Linked DNA regions of Homo sapiens. The protein of the gene in region 3 purifies or fractionates together with the protein of the main gene of each other region. This does not show direct contact. Each region holds a gene or a part of one and is shown on either strand. Other genes may lie near its edges. The genes, in order: MTX2, NDUFAF4 and CHCHD3.

Region 1 (3,658 bases), on a different chromosome or scaffold from region 3:
GGAGAATAGATCTAACTTACTTTTCTTCTCAGTTAAACTCATTGTCATTGTGTTAGTAACCAGAGTTTGGCATGTGACTCAGTGGAAATATCAAGATATCATTTTTCTTCATAAGGGCACAATTACATTTACACTTGTGATGAAAACTTCTAACTTAGAACAGTTCAAACACCAAAGCCTTGCTTTTGAGGAACTATTTAATTGATATTATGATGTAGAGTTTTGACATAATTTTCCTTTGCGTGATACTTAGATAAACATTTTCCCTAAAAATAAGATTAAAGATAGAAGAGATTTGATTTTTAATTTTATTCGATCATTTAATTAATACTAAAATGCAAATAAAGTACATTTAGAAAAAAGTAACTGGTATTTCACTTCCTTGTGCCAACATTTTTCTCATTCCTTTATCTGTAGCAGGAGTCATTACTTTGTGAGATACTATGTTGAATAGAGCTGTGGCCTAAGTCAGGTATTATACTGCAAGTCAGAGGGTCTGAATTCTATTCTTGGCTCTGACATATCTCTAAGTTACTCTAATTTCTCTATGTGTATGCCAGTCCTAAAATTAGAATTAACCCCCTACAATTAGAATTAATCCCCTAAAATTAGAATTAACTTTCCTTCTAGCTCAACTACTGGGGATGTTGGGAGGACTCGTGAAAGAAACCAAATACCGTTACTTGATGAGAGAAAAGGAAAAGGGTAGTTAAGGGAGATCTCACAGAAAGAATAATAATTGGGAAAAGAGGCCAAAAAGCAAGGGGCTTGATTTACAAAACTTGGGTGACAGCCCTAAAGATAAGTGATTAGGATGTAAAGAAAAGATAACGTAGATTATTTCTAGTACTATAAAGAGATGAAAAGTTAATGGGAAAGAACAATTAGGAAACACTCAGACAAAATTAATGCTTTTGAAAGCATTAATATAGATGATACTATGAAGGTATCAGAGAGAAATAAATGTGAAATAATGAATAAGCAAAGCAAAAAATATGAGTGCCAGAAAAATCTTAAATGGAAAATGTTAGGAAAATGTTGAATTTTACTGAGTGCCAGAAAAATCTTAAATGGAAAATGTTATGAAAACGTTGAATTTTACTGTTTTTGTTTTGATATTCAAATGAAAAAATAGTAGATAACCAACAGGAATGTGGAAAGAATAATAATGTAAGAAGGCATCAAATTTCTTAGGACTTTAAAAATATATTTGTCACCCTGGAATATTTTTCTAATAAAAAGTCTATAAAGATAAATGCAATAATATATGAAACATCTTAGAGCTCATAGGAGGGGAATTGCTATCTATATTTGAATTATAATCACAAACTATTTGGTAAGCAGAAGGGTAGAAAGTTGTGTTTTCTCTTCACGTGATATAGCAAGATAATTAAAATTGGAGGTATATGAAGATCTTGACTTGATTAAATAGTTCAGTAGAAATACTGGATAAAATATGTTACTTGTCTTTTTGTTAAGTCAGGTTTATTGATGTGTAATTTACATCTAGTAAAATTGGCACTTTTATGCGTGTAGTTCTATGAATTTTAACAAAGGCATACAGTTGTGTAACTGTCACCTATCAACTAAAATATTATTTGTACTTCTTAAAAAGACTTGTTGGAATCAGTAATTTATATATGTCAGAGTCAGTGTAAGGAGTTGCTCAAATTTGGAAAAATTACAAAAAATATGCTTTAAAGGTTAGTGTGTGTGGATATATACAGTCATGCCCTGTATGGCAACCTTTCAGTCTGTGATGGACCAAATATATGATGATGGTCCCTTGAGATTGTAATATATTTTTACTTACCTTTTCTGTGTTTAGATATGTTTAAATACACAAGTATTTGTGTACCATAAATACACATTATCATTGTGTTACAGTTGCCTACAGTATTCTGTTTGGCAATGTGCTGTATAGGTTTGTAGCCTATTAGCAATAGGGTGTACCATATACTCTAGGTGTATAGCACCATCTAGGTTTGTGTAAGTAGACTCTATGATGTTCACACAGTGAGAAAATTGCCAAACAGTGCATTTCTCAGAATGTATTCCTGTTAAGCAACACACAACTGTATGTGCTTTGGTTTAATCTGTTGAATTCTACTTCTGTTGATGTTCTAAAGTAACTTGCCACAAAGTTGCTGTCTTTATGTAAAATCAGATCAGTTTTTATATGCTCATGCCCATATATAATTCAGTACCTCTGGAGTTATGTGGATATATATTTGCAACAAACCACTTCAGGGGTACTTCTGGAGCACTCTCATTTGAGCATACATTGATAGTTGAACTCTTTCAGAGCCTTCATTTATTAATAAAGGGTGCCCATCTATACTACTGGAAGTTGCATCAGAGAATATATGCACCTTTTTTAGGCTCTAGTACAAGAAGTATAGGGTAGCTGGCACTAAACAAGGATTAGGAAAATAAGTTCTAAATTGGTAAGATAAGATGTACCTCTTAAGAAATATGTTTAAGGATGTGGAAGAATTGGTGTTTGTATTATTCTCACCAAGTGCCTCAGCTCAGCTCCCCATTTATCCACTCTACATCCTTGGTTTTTTGCAGGGATCTATTCATTATTGGTTCATTCCTGTGATGATAAGATTATGGTGCTGTTGAGTCTAAGGACCCTTGAGATTTTTTTTTTTAAAACTATACTGTTGGCTACCCATTTAAACATGGCCATAGATTGCACATTTGACTTTGATTAACACTTCATGAATGTCAAAAGAGTGGAAGGCTTTCAAAGAATGTAAGTTACTACTATTGAGAAAATTAAATATTCCACACATCTTAGGATGCTTTCTTTTTTAATTCATGTATTTATTCGGCAAGTGCTACTTCAGTTCCTTAGATACTGTGCTAAGAACTGGGAATATAAAGATATATACAGCATTGCCTTTGAAGAGCTTGGAGTGTAGTGAGGGAAACAGTTAAGTGAACACAGTTATAATATGGTATGAGAAGTGTGTCACCTTTTTATTGGTTCATTCAACACAAATTTATTGCACAATTCCTGCTTTGTGCAAGGAATTGTTCTAGGTATTGGGGTTACAGCAGGAACCAAGTAGGTGAGGTCCTTTCTCTACAGGACTTTCTGGTAGAGGAGATGCACAATAAGCAAAAAAAAAATTATATGGTATTAATTATCAAATGTAGAATTAAAAAAGGACCACATGATAAGGAGTGACTACATGTCCACTTTAATTTGAGTGGTCTGAGGAGACTTTAAGATGTGCCATTTAAACCTTATTCTAAAAAATAAGGAGCCAGTGTGAAGTCAGAGGAAGAGTATTTTAGGCAGCAGGAATAGTTATAGTCAAGGTTCCCTAATTGGCTTGAGTTTGTTACGTTCAAATGCAAGAAACAAGGCCAGTTTGGGTTGTATGCTATGAATGGTAGGATATGAGGCTAAAGAGGCAGGCAGAGGCCAGATTATCAAGGCTCTGTGTGCTTAGTGTAAGGAGTTTGGCATTTTAGTATAAGTAGAACAGAAATCCATTAGAATATTTTGTGCTTGGAGTTGGTATGATCTGCTGACATTAGTCATTCTGACCATGGTATGGAGAATGAGTAGAAGCAGTAAGACACTTTAGGAGGCTATCTCAGTGGTCTAGGTGACAGATGATGGTAGGTTACACTGTGAAAT
Region 2 (3,197 bases), on a different chromosome or scaffold from region 3:
AAAAGGCAATGTGGCAAAAGTACTATTAAACTATGGCTCATTATAATAAGAAAATGAAGTTTGGAAAATCGTATATAGAATTTGTGTTAATCCATTCTTGCACTGATGTAAAGAAATACATGAGACTGGGTAGTTTATAAAGAAAAGATGTTTAATTGGCTCACGATTCTGCAGGCCATACAGGAAGGATAGCAGCTTCTGCTTCTGGGGAGGCCTCAGGAAACTTATAATCATGGTGGAATGGGAAGCAGGCACGGCTTATATTGCCAGAGCAAGCAGAAGCGGGGTGTGGGGGAGGTGCTACACACTTTTAAACAACCATATCTGGTGAGAACTCTATCACGAGAATAGCACCAAAGAGGGAAATCCACTCCCATGATCTAGTCACTTTCCACCATGCCCTACGTCCAACTTTGGGGACTACAATTTGGTGACATGAGATTTGGGTGGGGACACAGATCCAAACCATATTAGTTGTTATTTGAAGAGGAATAGTGTAGATTTGAGAAGTATGAAAGTAGATGTCAAATCTTTTCTCTCATCCTAAAACCTTTTTTTTTTGATACTAGGTAAAAGCTGCTGAAACATGTCAAGAGCCGAAGGAATTCAGATTGCCGAAAGACCATCATTTTGATATGATAAATATTAAGAGCATTCCCAAAGGCAAAATTTCCATTGTAGAAGCATTGACACTTCTCAATAATCATAAGCTTTTCCCAGAAACCTGGACTGCTGAGAAAATAATGCAGGAATACCAGTTAGAACAGAAAGATGTGAATTCTCTTCTTAAATATTTTGTTACTTTTGAAGTCGAAATCTTCCCTCCTGAAGACAAGAAAGCAATACGATCAAAATGAAGAAAATCACAGAAATTTCCTATGTGTACTCCTCATCCCTCCTGCTGTATATTTTCTCATTTTTTGCGTAATAAATTATGTTAATTACCAAATATTTAATGCTCTCATTGTGAGGGCATACTCTTAATATTTATTGAGCTCCCTGACTTTTCAAGATTGCCATAGAATATCTTTTGTTTTATTTTAATTTGGTTTAGGCATATTTCATAAGTGCATGTCAGCATGACTGAGCACATCTGTACCTTTATTATGGTGAAAGAGTTAATTTGTTATTTTAGGCACATATACCAACTTTTAAATTGGTCATATTACCCCTTGGGAAATGTCCTGAATCCCTCAACTGAGTTTTACTTTCCAAGTTAGGTGTTTAGTTCATTCTTCTCATGCGATAGTGAAAGTAAAAGCTTTCCTGACCCTTAAGACTGACATTTTCTCGTTAGGGAAAGAGACTCGATAGCAGGGTAGACTAACAGTAGTTCCCAAATAAAGGCACACAGGAGAAAATGAATCAATAGAATCTAATTAAAATTACTACTCCAGGGAATAAGAAGTATTGAGGATTTATTTTATTTTGAATTGGTTTTAAGTATGGAATAATTGTCTTTACAGTTATAAAAAGTAATTAGTGGTGTTTACAAAATGTTGGGAATTTCTGCTTTGACAGATAGGTAAGTCCCATGGGAATTTCTGCTTTGACAAATAGTTAAGTCCCATGGCCTTCAGAGAGGCAGGAAGCAGAAACTTTCAAAAAAGTAACATTTCTCTGGATTTAATGTGGAAATAGAGAAAAATTTAAAGAATAATTAAAAAACCATGGTAGATGAAATTTGGTGATTACATATAGTTTCGGATGTTAATGCTAGTTGAGAGAAGAGAAAAAGATAGCAAGTAGAAGCAGAGAACAGGATCATTGGAAGGGACCTGAGAAATTGCCATTTCATCCATTTTAGCAAATTTAATTAGCATAGCATGTACCAGTACTAGGATCTTGAGTGAGTGTGTGAGTTTAGCTCTGCCTAATATATTACTACTTGGGGGATCTTTGGGAGACTATATCTTCTTGGAGATTGAGTTTCTTCTATAAAATAAGCATAATGCTACCCTAAATGTAAGGGTTATCATGAAGATAAATAATAAAGGACTACAAAGGACCAAGCAAATAGGAATTATTTTTTGCGGTGGAGAAACAAGTGCCTGGGGAGAATATATGACCGAAGATTCTGTAGTTTATGACTTAAACAGGCCCAGAATTTAGTTTTTCAAATCCTAGTAGTGTGTTTTTTCTGTCTTGCCAAAAAGCAGCACACCTCAAAGAAGGGAAAAGGTGTGAATTGTGGGTATATTAGGGTTATTAGTGCTTCCGAGGGAAGATAGGCATCACTACTTCCCAGAGATGCCCCTGGAAATGATATAGAGGATGTTGAAGAATTCAATGTGATGACGGAATGAGGCATTTGTAGTAATGCTGAGAACAGAAAAATGGACTAAGTGGAAAATTTGTAAGCATGACTTTGAATGTAGATTTGTTATGTGAACAAACTACCTAGTTTATTTTTAGTTCAATACAATAATTGTTTTAAGAAAACATGAAATAACTACTCAATATAAAATGCATTTTAAAACTGTAAATAAGTCAAAACTTTATTCTTTTTATCATAATGGTCACTAGCTGAGTCACAAATACTAGTACACTCTTCTGAGCCATCTTCTTTATTCATATCTACATTGTGTGGTTAGGCATCTGTTATGTGGTGTCACATGATAAAATAAAGAACTTCTTCCCATACCATTCATCAGTCCTATACTGCGTTTTATTATATACAGGAGAGCACTTGGTAGCAGTGATGTCAGAAAGTGCATGGAATTTAGATTCAGAAAACAGTTTAGATCTCAGGATCACCACTAGCCATGCCATCTAACATTTTAAAAGTAATTACTGTACTAGGGTCTGATTGAAGTGCTTTACGTGTATTAACTTGCTTAATATTTACCATAGGTACAAGGATAAGTAGCCATATTTTAGAAGCATAGAGAGCTTCAGTAACTTCAAAGATTACTTAGTAAGTGTTGAAGCCTGGATTTAGTCCTGTTAGGTTATTTTCAGAACCTTGTGCTTCTAACTGATACGCTATGTTGCCTTTGTAAGATTATGAGAATTAATGAGATGTCATGCAAAGTGCCTGAGGCATATGAGGACAGGACTACTCAATGCTCACCGTATATGAGAATCATCTGTAGAATTCTGGGAAAATACAGATGTCTGCTGTGAGAGGCTGGTGTAAGTCTGGGAGACGCCTGGGTTCATGGATTCTGGATCACGGGTGTTTAAAAAATATCTAT
Region 3 (3,658 bases):
AAGTACCATGGGAAGTGTGACTCTGAAAACAGAGCAGGAAGCCAGGAACCTGGAGCCTGACAACCAAGGGCAAACTGGGACCAGAGGCAAGGACCAACCCCAGGAGATGCCCAAGGGACAGAGGTCAGTGTGGGACCTGCAGTTAGATGATGAGTCTGTCAGGGGTCCCCCAAACCATAGCAGAAGTTTCAGTCAGTAAGCAGGCAGTGGGACAGTAGCCACGCAAACAGTTAGTTCAGCTCACAATAAGGACGTCTTGTAAATGAGACAGCCCCACCTCAGACCTACATGCTTCCTGCTGATCTCTTTGGAGAGATCAGAAAGGAACCTGGCCACAGTGAGGAACTTGGGGTCAGGACCCAGTAAATGAGGCTAGATCCTAATGTGACAGCTCTCCAACTTAAGGCTAGTGCACCCCGTTGTCTCGTTTCTAAAATATCATTGACATCTCCAGTATTTGGTTGGCTTCCTAAGTCAAAGCCTCAAGATCAGTGCATATGGAGGAATTTGCCCTGGCACAATTTCTGTCCGCCTTCTGAAGGACAATTTCATCTCCCCGGTGAACTGTATTTATATTAGACCAGGATTCTGCTCCTAAGTCTGTGACATATTTTGAGTATGAAGGGGTCCTGAAAACATAGTAGTAGCTTTTGCTTAAAAATCAAGGTTCTTGAAAGAAAAACCTATTGCCAGAGCAAGCTGTATGTTATCATTGTTTTCAGATGAACTCTACATTAGATGCAAATGATTTAATAGACTTATAGGCTGTTGGAGCTAAAAGGACCCTAGAGATCATATAACCCAACCTCATTTTTTTCATGTGCAAAATTAGCTTCCAGAGAATTTAAATGATCTGTAGAAGGGCAGAACCCAGACCAAACAGCCCACTCTTAAATTCAAAACCAGGGTATTTTTCCTGTCGTGTCAGATCTCAGATGTGGGTGAGCATCAGAATCCCCTGAGGGGTTTGCTTAAAATGTACCCACCCAATCCCCATCCCTGGAGATTCTGATTCAGAAGGTCTGGGGTGAGGCCTGGGCATCTGAACTTTGACCAAATTTCCCAGGAGACTCTGTACCCAAAGTTTGAAAACCATTGCTCTTAGAGCCCATTGGCCTGAATTGCATTAAAGGTCTTTGACCTTTCAGAGGTCCTGCCAAGTCCTTGTTTTCCATCTTTTGGGAGATGGGGAGCTATCACTCCCTATAGGTCAAAGCTACCTGGCAGAGGTCTCATCAGACCAACCCTAGGAATGAATCTTTAGCCTTAAGAACAAATTGGAAGATGATGTGGGAATCAGATGGAAGCCTTGAAAAGAGATCCCCTTCCCCTCTTCTCTTGCTCCCATTGAAACAGTAGGTGACCCCAGTCCCCTGGCTAGCTCACAGCTGTGACCAGACCCTCCCTTGGTTCTACTGCTCCCAGTCACCCTGCTTCTCTCCCCGACCCACATCAGGGTCCCCCCGATGTACACGGTGGCCACTTTCAGAGAGCACGAAGATAATCAAGAAGGTTAACTTTCTGGGAAGCCCCCCAGGAGCATGTTTTTATTGTGTTCGAAAGCTGCTTTATCATTATCGCTTGATGACATTTATTAATTGCCCAGCTGGGATGCTGGTCACAGGGTGACTGACACGTGGGTATTTCATAATAGATTTCCCATTTTTTTGGTAGGGCAGCCCTTTGAATTTAGAGTCAGATCAAAGCAAACAAAATTCCAAACTTTAAATTTCCTATCCCAACCTCTTCCATCATAGGAATCCTTTTCTAAACCACTTTCTGAGAGTAATCGTTGCTTCGTGACATTTTCTCTTTTTTTAAATCTGAGTTTAATAGAAGAAATACTACCATGGTAATAGATTTTCATTTTTCTTAATAGGTATTTCTTTTCCCATGGTCATCCTTCAATTAGAACTGCAGTATGTTAGTGTTTTGTCTGTTATTGCAGCCAGCTGTATAAACAGTTAATTACTTGTAACTTAATTTGAATATTATACAGAGCATTTGTCATAGAAGATATAAAACAAGATCCAGGCAGAAAAAAGTTAACTTCTATTTCCTCCAAAGCAGGAGGAACAAAGAACAAACAGCTCTTGCTGCAGGGGAATAGACACATATTGAAAACAAAATAAGTGATCTAATCAGATTTCCAGGTAGTGAAGAACAGTACTTGGTGCACAGGCAAAACTCGCTTTGTGCTTCCCATAAATTCAATTTATAGATGACTTTTCCTTCCTGTCTTATGCACAGTCTTCTCATTCTGGCTTTTTCCTCATCGAAGCTCCAGTGTCTCCCACTCCCCACTTTTCCTGACCCTCCTTAGTAAAACTCGTGTCTTAAGACCAGGTCTGTGCCAGGACACATCTCCAGTTTCATTTTTCCTTGGTTAGGTAGACCTTCCTGCTTCTCTACCCAGCTTTATGAGGCCTGAAGTCTTGGTGAGGCGCTGGGTAAGTTCATCCAGAGACAAGCACCCTGAGTGGTATCTTAAAAAACAAACCGCTTTTCTTCTCTTCATGATGATTGGTTAGCAACCCAGGGTTGCCATCATTTCTCTTAAATTATCAACACAACCAGTAGCTGGCATGCTGCTATGATAGTCAACCCCTCCAAGAAAGCTGTGATTCAAAAATCAGTTGATGAGATTACTGCTTAACAGAAATATTTGAGGCAAGCGGTTAGGATGGTTAGTAAGGTTTTAATAAGCGGAAATGACACGCAATCTCAGGTCTCCAGGGGCGCTGTTCTTATTTGTGAGCTGCCGGTTGTTCTTCAGTGGCTGGAATGAGAAAAAGACTTGGGAAAAGAGCAGTGTTCATGCCTGAACCACTCTCTTCTTTTGGTGATTTACCCAGCTGTTTATAAAAGGAGTTTCTGCAGGCCCAGATACGTGAATGATGAGCAAAAGCAAGGAATTTCTTTCTCCACATTAAGATTAAGTGTTAGCAGTTCCTTAAATGAAGGAAGCAATTTTTTATAACTTGCAAAGCTTCTCCCTCATTCTTTAGGGAATTTCCTATGTTAATTTATGCAGTGTTAAATTTATGCAGCGTTGAAATTCAGCCCAACAGCAGTACTTACGGAACCAATACAGAGACAGTAGAACCTATAAGGTGAAAGCTGAATAACACAGACCCCACCAGACTACGGATCCCTCCAGCCAAAAGCCCTGAGTTCTGAGTTGGAGCAGGTTTTGTCGCATAGCTGGAATATAATAATAACCCAAAATGTTTGACAGATGAATTCATCTTTTTTAAAAATCCAGCCTGCCATTGTGTTTGTTAATTTCCCTGATAGAATTGAGATGGTTTTGTACCACCCCTGCCACCCTTTGGTAGCAAGTGAGTGCAGTTTGACAAAATGTTTATAGATCAGCCCTGGTGCTTTTCTGTGGTGGTCCCACATGTCTTCAAGGAGTCACCACAAATCAGCTGAACCACTGTGCTATCTTGGAGGATTAGAATTTTAATACATGTAACGGTATTTTGTGAATGTGGCTAAAGGGGTTATTAAAATGTTACTTCTTTTAGTGTCTTTATGTGAGACTGGCCTGCTCATCCTCAGACCAGCCAGGCCCCATCTTGTCTCTTTCTGAAAGAGAGCCTAACATTCTTAGCATGATATGATTTGGCTGAAAAATTACCCATCTATATTTGGT

What was found.
Region 1: the proteins of CHCHD3 (region 3) and MTX2 purify together in Homo sapiens (affinity purification with mass spectrometry; 3 studies listed by BioGRID and IntAct, with this or other methods). This does not show direct contact.
Region 2: the proteins of CHCHD3 (region 3) and NDUFAF4 purify together in Homo sapiens (co-immunoprecipitation; one large-scale study listed by IntAct). This does not show direct contact.

What each region holds. Positions count from the first base shown.
Region 1 is NC_000002.12:176,331,915-176,335,572, forward strand, and holds part of MTX2 (metaxin-2), read left to right. Parts: intron 1-3,658. UniProt on the Homo sapiens protein: Involved in transport of proteins into the mitochondrion.
Region 2 is NC_000006.12:96,888,764-96,891,960, reverse strand, and holds the end of NDUFAF4 (NADH dehydrogenase [ubiquinone] 1 alpha subcomplex assembly factor 4), read left to right. Parts: intron 1-569; coding exon 570-857; 3' UTR 858-2,646; downstream 2,647-3,197. UniProt on the Homo sapiens protein: Involved in the assembly of mitochondrial NADH:ubiquinone oxidoreductase complex (complex I). May be involved in cell proliferation and survival of hormone-dependent tumor cells. May be a regulator of breast tumor cell invasion.
Region 3 is NC_000007.14:132,788,558-132,792,215, reverse strand, and holds part of CHCHD3 (MICOS complex subunit MIC19), read left to right. Parts: intron 1-3,658. UniProt on the Homo sapiens protein: Component of the MICOS complex, a large protein complex of the mitochondrial inner membrane that plays crucial roles in the maintenance of crista junctions, inner membrane architecture, and formation of contact sites to the outer membrane.